Linked DNA regions of Homo sapiens. The protein of the gene in region 2 purifies or fractionates together with the protein of the main gene of each other region. This does not show direct contact. Each region holds a gene or a part of one and is shown on either strand. Other genes may lie near its edges.

Region 1 (4,326 bases), about 26 Mb from region 2:
GGCGGGTGGAGGAGCTGGCAGGCGGGGGAGGCTGCCCAGGGCCAGGGCCTGCAGTGTGTAGGGAAATGACAGAAGGGTTGGTGTGGGCGGGAGCCCGTGGGGCCCTTTATCTCCTGGTAAACAGGACCCGGGGGAGAGGGGAGGCCCCTAGGAAGGAAGCGAGGGTAAGGCGCAGGCTGTTGCCAGGGTGATTCAGGCAGCATCACCCACCACTGCCCACCCAGCCTGTCCATCTGAGGCAGTCGTGTGGGACAGAGAAAGCCAGGGTGGGGCTCGGGGGTGGGGGTGGGCAGTGGCTGTAAGTAGGCAAGCGGGGACTGGCATCTAGGCAGGAGGGAGGCGCACCTGCAGGTGCAGGTGGCTCTGAACCCATTCCTGATGGCTCTCTAGGCCTCTGCACCTCCAGTCCCATCCCTGTGGGCGAGTGCTGCCTACACCTGGTGTCACCCAGCAATGGGTGAGCCCTGGGGATAGCCAGCTCTGCATTCAAGGGGTTAGGTTTCCAGGGTAACCGAGCCCCTGAGCCCAGCGTGGAGCCTGGCAGAGCCAGTAATCTGACTCCCCTTTCCCTCCCGCCAGGGGCTGTCCAGAGGCTCCGCTTTGCCTCAGCCTTTAGCCCCAGAGAGGCAGGGTGTGGAGGGTGGGGGCTGGCTTCTTGGGTAAGAGATGCCTCAGGGAAGATCTACCTGGCTCCCTGCTCCTTAAACCTTTCCCTCCTGCCCAGGTCCACCCCTTCCTCTTCCCTGGTCACTTGGCACTTCGACCTCCTGCCCGTTTCGGAAAGGGGTGTGCCCTGAGGTGACTGAACTTTGCCTGATCATGACCTTGATCATGCACAGGGCTGCTGGTGGGGTGAGGCCATCCCACGCAACTCTGGGGTCTGTGAAGCCACCAAGGATCAAGGAATGGAAGAGCTGCCTGAGTGTAGAGGGAGTTCGGTCAGGCTTCTTAAACTTGGAGACTTGGAAACAGAAGGCCTTGTAGGCCACATAGGTTTTCAGAGACTCGCCTGGCAGAGGCCTGGAGCGTCCTGCTGCGTGGACTGTGGGCACCGAGCCACCAGGAGGTTGTTGATCTCATTCTTGCTCACTGGTCCCTGCCAGACTGGTGGTGCCTCTCTACTGTCGGGCAGCCCCACCTCTGTGCTGCCCCATCCACCTACAGCCCTCATGCCTGGGCCCAGCTGGAGGTTCTGACAGGGGCCCCCTGGGGTGGCATGCGGACCCTTCAGGGTGCCCCAGGCGCAGCACAGGTCTCCAGAGACACAGGCACCAGGGCGTTCAGAGCTAGTCCCCTCGCTGCTGTTGACTGTCCTTGAGCAGCCCCAGGGCCGGTTTCTCAACCTCATTTGCTCACCTGAGCAATGAAGTGAGGTGGGCTCCTGGAACTGCAGCAGCCACCCCCCGGGGCCATCGTGAGGCTAAGAATCCAGTGCAGGGTGAGCAACCAGCGACCGCTACAAGGACAGTGAAGAGCTAGCACCAGGACCTTGGGTAGCCCACCCGCTGGAGGGAGCGTGTGCTGCAAAAAGCAAGAGTGGGCTTTGGAGGCCAACGGATGGAGCGGATTCAGTCTGAGGCTGTTCCAGCCCTTGCTTAGGATCCACCTACCTAGGTCTGGAAATCGTATTTCCACTTCAGATGCCTTCTCAGAGGATAAAATAACCCCCGGTGGGGGAGAGTACTGGAAGAGGGCTAATTCCCCTGGTTTTCTCCCCATGAGCATTAGTGTCAGTGTAATTTTAGAGTGACCCCAGCTATGTCACGTGTGGCAGGCACAAGAACAGATGTCAATGAGCTATTGCAGAGGTGGACACCCAGATGTGTGCGCTGGCACACTGGAGGGGCCCGTAGGGTGGCTCTAGACCGCCCCCTCGTGACGGCTTGCCTACCACCTGCAGGCGACGTTGTGGACGTTTACCAGCGGGAGTTCCTGGCGCTGCGCGATCGGTTGCACGCAGCTGAGCAGGAGAGCCTCAAGCGCTCCAAGGAGCTCAACCTGGTGCTGGACGAGATCAAGAGGGCCGTGTCAGAAAGGCAGGCGCTGCGAGACGGAGACGGCAATCGCACCTGGGGCCGCCTAACAGGTGAGGTCTGGGGCGGGAGGGGGAAAAGGCGGGGGCGGGCTGGTTGTAGGTTCCCTGGTCTCAGTCCCGATCCTTCCCGACCCACCCAGAGGACCCCCGATTGAAGCCGTGGAACGGCTCACACCGGCACGTGCTGCACCTGCCCACCGTCTTCCATCACCTGCCACACCTGCTGGCCAAGGAGAGCAGTCTGCAGCCCGCGGTGCGCGTGGGCCAGGGCCGCACCGGAGGTATGGGCGCAGACAGGGAGGAGCACGGGGTGGGGGGACGGGTGGCCCCCGCACCCTTTCCAGCGTCGGGCCTCCGTCCCCCATAGTGTCGGTGGTGATGGGCATCCCGAGCGTGCGGCGCGAGGTGCACTCGTACCTGACTGACACTCTGCACTCGCTCATCTCCGAGCTGAGCCCGCAGGAGAAGGAGGACTCGGTCATCGTGGTGCTGATCGCCGAGGCGAGTGAGCCGGGACGCGGGGTTGGGGGACATTCAGAGGAGCCCCCGCGGTGCAGAACTGACAGCAGGAACCATTCCGAGGAGAAAGCTGTCGGAAGTTCAGTTGCTAGTTTCATTCGCAAATGCTCCGAGATAGAAAGTTGAAAGGGCTTTCTGGCACCCTCTACCCCTACCCATCGCCCCCGCCACCCCCTAGTCCTTGGCCATGCGAGTCCCAAAGGGAAAGGGCCGTCTCTGGGGGCCCCCTTACTCCGCCCTCAGCACAGCAGGCTCACTCCCTCCACGTGGGGGGCATCTGAAGCCTGTGCCCCTTCTCCAAGCCCTTCCAGGCCTTTTGGGGCAGCAGCAGGGCTAAGGGAGGGTGCTTGGTCTCCCCACAGACTGACTCACAGTACACTTCGGCAGTGACAGAGAACATCAAGGCCTTGTGAGTACTGGCGACCCCAGAGAGCTGGTGGCGGGAGAGCTCGGTGCGGGGTGTTGTGCTGGCAGGTTCCTGCCTCCCCATGAGATAGTGCCTTTCCTATCTCGTGGGGAGGCAGGGACCTGGTGGGGGAGGGGTGGGTGTGCAGAAGTGGCCCAGCCCCTCTGGAGCTCTGCTACCTCAGTTGGCTGGGTGTAGGGGGTGGTGGGGGGCTGGCACTGGGTGAGCCTCAAGAAAGGGCCACAGTCTGGTGGGCTCGGCCCCTCTCAGCCCCTGGAGGCTGCATACGGACTAGGCCTTCCCGTCCCCCAGGTTCCCCACGGAGATCCATTCTGGGCTCCTGGAGGTCATCTCACCCTCCCCCCACTTCTACCCTGACTTCTCCCGCCTCCGAGAGTCCTTTGGGGACCCCAAGGAGAGAGTCAGGTACTAGTTACTCCCCCATACCCTCAGCAACCCGCCTGCCTGTGCTGAGAACCCATCTACTGGTGTTTGAGTCCAGGGTGTTTCCCTGCAGTGCCCTGAATTCTCCATGGGAGGACCCGTGCATGGGGGTGGGGGGACAGAAGCTGCCCACCCAGCGGCTTCTCTGCGGAGCCACAATGGAGGTGGAGGGGTCTGAACTTCTGAGGCCCCGCCCCGGCCCACAGGTGGAGGACCAAACAGAACCTCGATTACTGCTTCCTCATGATGTACGCGCAGTCCAAAGGCATCTACTACGTGCAGGTCAGCCCCAAGCCCTGCGTTGCCCTGCCCTGCCCTGCGCCGCCCTGCCCTGCGATGGGTCTGGTCCATCTGGGTGCCCTTCCTCAGCCCCAGCCCCTCTCTGCTCACCTCGCAGCTGGAGGATGACATCGTGGCCAAGCCCAACTACCTGAGCACCATGAAGAACTTTGCACTGCAGCAGCCTTCAGAGGACTGGATGATCCTGGAGTTCTCCCAGCTGGGCTTCATTGGTGTGCCCCTCCCCTTACCTGACGGTGCCTTTCAGTCCCACCTGCCTCTGCCATCCTCTCTCCCAGTCCCACTGTGTCCACTGTGAGCCTTTGCCCAGGTGGGCCCTGCCTGGTGTGCGTGCTACAGCCCCACCTGGCCTGTTCTCATTGCCTGTGCATCAGACATGTCTGCCCTCATCACCTGTCTGCCTCCCTGCCCCGTTATGCCCACACCTGCCTGAAGCCTGCCCCTGGGTTTGCTGTGGGACTCGGGGGCCGCTGCAGGGAGAAAGGAAGTAGGCAGAGCAGCACTGCCCACTCAGGCCCCTCCCCACCAGGTAAGATGTTCAAGTCGCTGGACCTGAGCCTGATTGTAGAGTTCATTCTCATGTTCTACCGGGACAAGCCCATCGACTGGCTCCTGGACCATA
Region 2 (5,359 bases):
ACCACATGACCTTATGTGCTCCACTTCAGCTACTGAAGAGGCTGTCTTAGGGCAATGGTCCCTCTCACCTGCTCAGATGTCCAGGCTTGCAGGAAGGGCTTAACGGGCAGGGGTGGAAGACAGGTCCTTTGTCCTGCTCAGATATGGAGGAAGTATGGTGGTTAAGGACTCAGCACTAGGTCAGAGTTCAAATACCAGCTCCACCACTACAGGCTGTGCATCCTTGGGCAAGCACCTGCCCCTCTTCGAGCTTCAGTTCCCTCCTTCTTTCCTACCTGGTTACAACAATATTTAACAGATGTACAGGTAAAGGACCTAGCAGAGTAAGTGCTAAATAAATGGTAACTGCTATTACTACTATTAACATTATCAACCTCATTATCAGCCATATCATCATCATTCTTTGGATCAGTATCATTTTATGCTGTGGCTTTCATCACCTGAGAAAACTGAAGACAATTTAACATCTGAAGCTCAGCATTCTCTTAAAGCCATAGGGAAGGAAAAAAATAGGCCTGCTTTTTTCTTTTCTCTCCTATCTACACTCAGCAGAGGGCAGCAAACAGGAACCATTCAAAGATAAGAGGGAGAGAAGAGAGACACATGGAGAGAAAGCTACACACGCATAAATACACACCCACCCACCACAGCAAGCAGAATTGTTTAGCTTCCTCTAGCTTCCAAAGTATGAACACTCCACCTCCTCCAGCTAAGAGGGCCAGGCAGAAAAAACGTGGAAGCTGCAGAGACAGAAGTTCTTTTTCAGCTTGAGAGAAATTTTCAATGAATTGACTTTTAGTGTGTATGGGGGCAGGGGAGACAGTTCTCGGGACGTCTGTGAGGGGAAAGGAAGGCAGCGGCAGAACGGGTAAGTAAGATTCAATAAAGACAGCTTTCAATTGCTCTTTATCTCCACCCTCCACTGTGTGTTGGCAAGCATTTGCACCCAAGCCGTCCTCAGCAACAAACTGAGGTCCACACAGCTAATCATCTCAGCCAAGGGGTGGCAGTGCTGGAATGAGAACACAGACCTCCAGACTGCAGGTTCGGTGCCCAAAAATGGGTCCAGGGTGGCAAAGGGGTTTTCTCTCCAGGACCAAATCTCATCCCCAAGGAGTGATTACTGCCTGGAACACTGTGTCAGCAGGACTCTGGAGTGGATATTTGTGGGCTTCTTCTCTAGATATCTTTCTCCTCTTCCCAAAAGCAGCACCCAGAGTCTTCTCTGGGGAACTGCTCTTCTTAGATCTGGGTAACCTGACTCCACTCCTAGCTCTAGGGTACGTTAAGTCAATCAATACAGCTTCTCCTCCTGAAATCTGCGAATGGTTCAGACAGCACATTAGATCCAAAGTAGACCGGTAAGACCTAAGATCTTGCTAGAGCTTATAGAAAAGATGTTCTCTGTCTTTTGTAGAAGCTACCAGAGGAGACAGACCCTCTCCTCTAGGATCTAGGTGTGGATCTGAGGTCTGAAAGAGCTATTACCATTTTTTGCTGCCATGGAGCCTCAAAACAGAACAAAGCCAACACACAGAGAAAGTCAGAACCAACAGAAACCAGAGGAAAGGAGACCGAGCCCTGACAATGCCACAAACCTCTAGATCACACCATACCTGAAGCCAACTACAGTCACAGGAGCCAATATATTCCCTTACTCATTTCAGCCCACATGGCTCAATTTGTTTTGTTACTTGCAACTGATAGAGAATCTGAGGTGGTTCTTAGGCTCAAGTTCTCTCTGTCTGTCAGGGATAGCAGTAATGGTGCCATGTACTTCCCAGCCTTTAATTCCTCTACTCTTGTCCCTTTGCCACCTTAAATTTTAATCCATTTTAGTTGCTTTTAAAACTATAAAATGAGGCTGGGTATGGTGGCTCACGCCTGTAATCCCAGCACTTTGGGAGGCTGAGGTGGGCAGATCACCTGAGGTCGGGAGTTCGAGACCAGCCTGACCCACACGGAAAAACCCCATCTCTACTAAAAATACAAAATTAGCCAGGCTTGGTGGCGCATGCCTATAATCCCAGCTACTTGGGAAGGCTGAGGCAGGAGAATCACTTGAACCTGGGAGGTGGAGGTTGCGATGGGCCGAGATCACGCCATTGCACTCCAGCCTGGGCAACAAGAGCAAAACTCCGTTTCAAAAAAAAACAAAAACAAAAACAAAACACTATAAAATGTTGGAAAGAAAATGTACAAAAATAGATCTACAAAAAAATAGCCAGATAGGTTCCAGCAGATAATTGGTCTCATTAAGCAGTGGCCTCCAAAATTTGGGGTGATAATCTTGGCTCCTGAAAGAAATAATGGTAGAGAAGGATCAAATATTAGTATATGGAGGGAAAAAATTTCTCATGGTGAAATAGAACAAGAACTTGGAGAATGGATTCTGATCTGCGTTCCTCCCTATGGGAACTTGTTTAATTTGTTTCCCTTTTTCTCGGCCTCAGTTTTCATACCTACAAATTGAGGAGATTGGACTAGATGACTTCTGCAGCCCCCTGCCTGCTCTGATATATTTCAATCATTCAGCAAACACATCCTGTCTTCCAAGAGCCAAATCTTGTGCTTTGTGCTAGAGGAGGATGTGTTCCTACCTTAAGACATTTCCAGCAGGGAGGCCATGATACACTTCTTGCTGCGGGAATTCAGGTGTATATGCGCTACCTCCTTTCCCCACTCCACTGCGCATGAGGAGAAAGGTTCTCTGGAGAAACAAGACTCTTATTCAAGGCCTTCCCTTACCAGTTCTGACACATATATGGGATGCAGAGGGTCAGATATATGTAAAACACGAAACCTCTGCAAACACCGTCAGGAGCATTTAGCTGCCATGGGGCTTACTTGTAGCTGCCAGGTTTGCCTCAAGGTGCTTTTGATTCAGTGAGGAGATCCTGATGCCATCTCTGTGTAAGAGCTGACTGTGGACAAGGTACAATTAGCAAGCTAGATGGTTATCTTTTAAATGGGCTTTTGCTTTTCATTCCTGATTCCGTTATCTGTTACCGTGTCACTGGAACCAACAGATCAAAGGCTGAACATCCTTAGACTACAGCCTGAGAAAAGACATTCAAATATGAACATACCCTTAAGTTGTGGCCTCATTACAAGTTAGATACAGAGGCCTGTTTAAATATACTATCACTATTCAGATGTGTTTCCAAGCATACTCACAGAACCTCAGGATGTAAGAGTTGGAAAAGCCCTAACACAGTATCTATTCCCTACATTGCTAATGAGTTTCCATATGTCGTTAACTCTACTTGAGTAGCCCTGCTGAGAAACAGTCTGAGCCCAAGTCTGGTATTAGTAATGAAAAGGTTGATTAGCAATGTCTGCCCTGGCCATGGGAGGGGAAGCATCGTTACAATATGCATTTGCCTTTTCCCTTCTGAATCTAAGCCTCACTTAGCAGATGAGGAATCCAAGGCCCAGAGAGGTTAAACCTCTTTCCTGAGGACACACAGTGAGTTTAGGGCAGGAGAAAGGACTAAAAGCCAGGTCTCTGTTCCCAGGCCTTCCTCAGCTGGACTCCTTGGTAGACAGCAAGCCAAGAATGACAGAAAGAATGTAGGGAGCCGGATTTGTTCTGGCAAATCAACAACCCTTCCCTAGTGGCATCAGATTTCACCTGGGCATGCAGACAGAGGAGTGATTAGCAAGCTAAAGGATACTAGCCCTTCTGTGGAAAATTAAGGAAATCGTTCCAAGGCTACATTTCTATACTTAACTTTCTGATGGGCAAGGCTTCTGCCACCAGGAAGACTGAAAAAAGAGAAAAAAACATTGATTTCTGGATGTTCTAAGAATAAAGTTCAGCTCTAACACAATGAGAAAGAAATCCTGATACTTGAAAATTAAAGTCACCGGTATTCCATTATTCCACCAATTTCTATTCCACATATGCTATTTATCCAGTGAAGTCATTTTTCAACAAGAGATTATGGCTCAGAAATGAGGAGAGACTGCACTGAGTTTCTAACTTGAGCTTTTAATAACCTGTCCCAAACCTGGAATATGAAACAGACTGTTGAATTAAACCAAGATGTTAAACAGATTGGGGCTTGGAATGAGAGGGACCCACAAATTAAAAGGAAGATGTCTTCAAGGCTGGCATTTCTTGCTTGGTTTTGCAGCTTCCCAAGAAGCCAACTGTCTGACCAGATGACTGCTGAAATCCTAGAAGCATTATGTGTCCTTTATAAATCAGCTATCCCACCCAGCTCCAGAGGTACTCCCAGGATGAGCTGGCATGAGTTATGTAGACTTTCATTCTAGCAGATGATAAACACTATAAATTTGAAACTCCGTTCTTTAATCCAGTGGAGAAATCAAGGAGTTAGAGGACTACTCAAGTAGTGGATATGTTACTCTCAAAGAATCTTCTTTCAAACCCATATGGAACACATTTTTCATTTGGATAAAGTCCTGTCAGACTTCCCTCCAGAGCCTCTGCAGTTATTTCTACCAGAAGGATCAACGAGATGCTCAAAGATGATTCTCAACAATTACAAGAATGACAGGCTGAGCTCAGAACTGGTCAGCCCTGTTGAAAAAGCTCTGTATGCTCAAGATGCCAGATTTCCCAGATAGCAGCCTGGCATGTTACATGTATGTTCCAGTACACTGGGATGAGGGATGGAACACCATCACTCTGAGAAGTCAGCCTCTTTCCTCAAGGCCAGCTGACATTCAAACAACGGACTGGGGGCCAAGCCCAGTGCTCTGCATCTGTGGGAGAGTGAAACAAAAAGGGGCTGTGTGGAAATTTGGCAGGGCGTTCTTGAAAGGCAGCAGATGAATGCTGAATCCTGTAGCACCTAGAAGAGCTTATCATTGGGGAAACAGCTCCATTCTGCTGCTCCCATGAAGCAAAGAGATTTTCTTTAAAGCAAGAATAATCAGTTGGTATTCCCCCCAAACCCCCAAACCCCCTTCACCACTTCTTCCTCCTCCTCTTCATGCTATTCCAGAGAAAAAGAAATGAACAAAAACTAGATCTTCCCAGATGAGCCTGTCTATCCATTTCAGTTAGGGGCTCTGAGCAGCACCCAGCTGTTGCTCCCCTCTCTCTCCCTGCCCAAAAGTCTGCCTTACTCTATCAATACCCTCTTGCACAAGTGAGTAATTTACTTTGAAAGCTCAGGCCAAACTGGCAGTTAACCTTGACCTTCTCTACCCATCTGGGTCTACAGAAATGAAAATCAGGATGTCTTTGGCATCTATTGCAAATGAAATACGAGGTCTTTCTCCAAGCAGAGGCAGAATGTCAAGCACTATTTTAGAATGGGCTACAGCTATTCTAAAGGAGAGTTTGCACTAGGGTAGGACACTCCCCCTTGACCTGGAGCTGTGT

Evidence for each region. The genes of interacting proteins can lie anywhere in the genome.
Region 1: the proteins of GALNT10 (region 2) and MGAT4B purify together in Homo sapiens (affinity purification with mass spectrometry; one large-scale study listed by BioGRID and IntAct). This does not show direct contact.

The regions. Positions count from the first base shown.
Region 1 is NC_000005.10:179,799,544-179,803,869, reverse strand, and holds part of MGAT4B (alpha-1,3-mannosyl-glycoprotein 4-beta-N-acetylglucosaminyltransferase B), read left to right. Parts: exon of another isoform or gene 1-1,758; coding exon of another isoform or gene 1,759-1,900; coding exon 1,901-2,086; intron 2,087-2,175; coding exon 2,176-2,316; intron 2,317-2,402; coding exon 2,403-2,536; intron 2,537-2,916; coding exon 2,917-2,963; intron 2,964-3,272; coding exon 3,273-3,386; intron 3,387-3,610; coding exon 3,611-3,686; intron 3,687-3,801; coding exon 3,802-3,916; intron 3,917-4,233; coding exon 4,234-4,326. UniProt on the Homo sapiens protein: Glycosyltransferase that catalyzes the transfer of GlcNAc from UDP-GlcNAc to the GlcNAcbeta1-2Manalpha1-3 arm of the core structure of N-linked glycans through a beta1-4 linkage and participates in the production of tri- and tetra-antennary N-linked sugar chains.
Region 2 is NC_000005.10:154,192,726-154,198,084, reverse strand, and holds part of GALNT10 (polypeptide N-acetylgalactosaminyltransferase 10), read right to left. Parts: intron 1-5,359. UniProt on the Homo sapiens protein: Catalyzes the initial reaction in O-linked oligosaccharide biosynthesis, the transfer of an N-acetyl-D-galactosamine residue to a serine or threonine residue on the protein receptor. Has activity toward Muc5Ac and EA2 peptide substrates.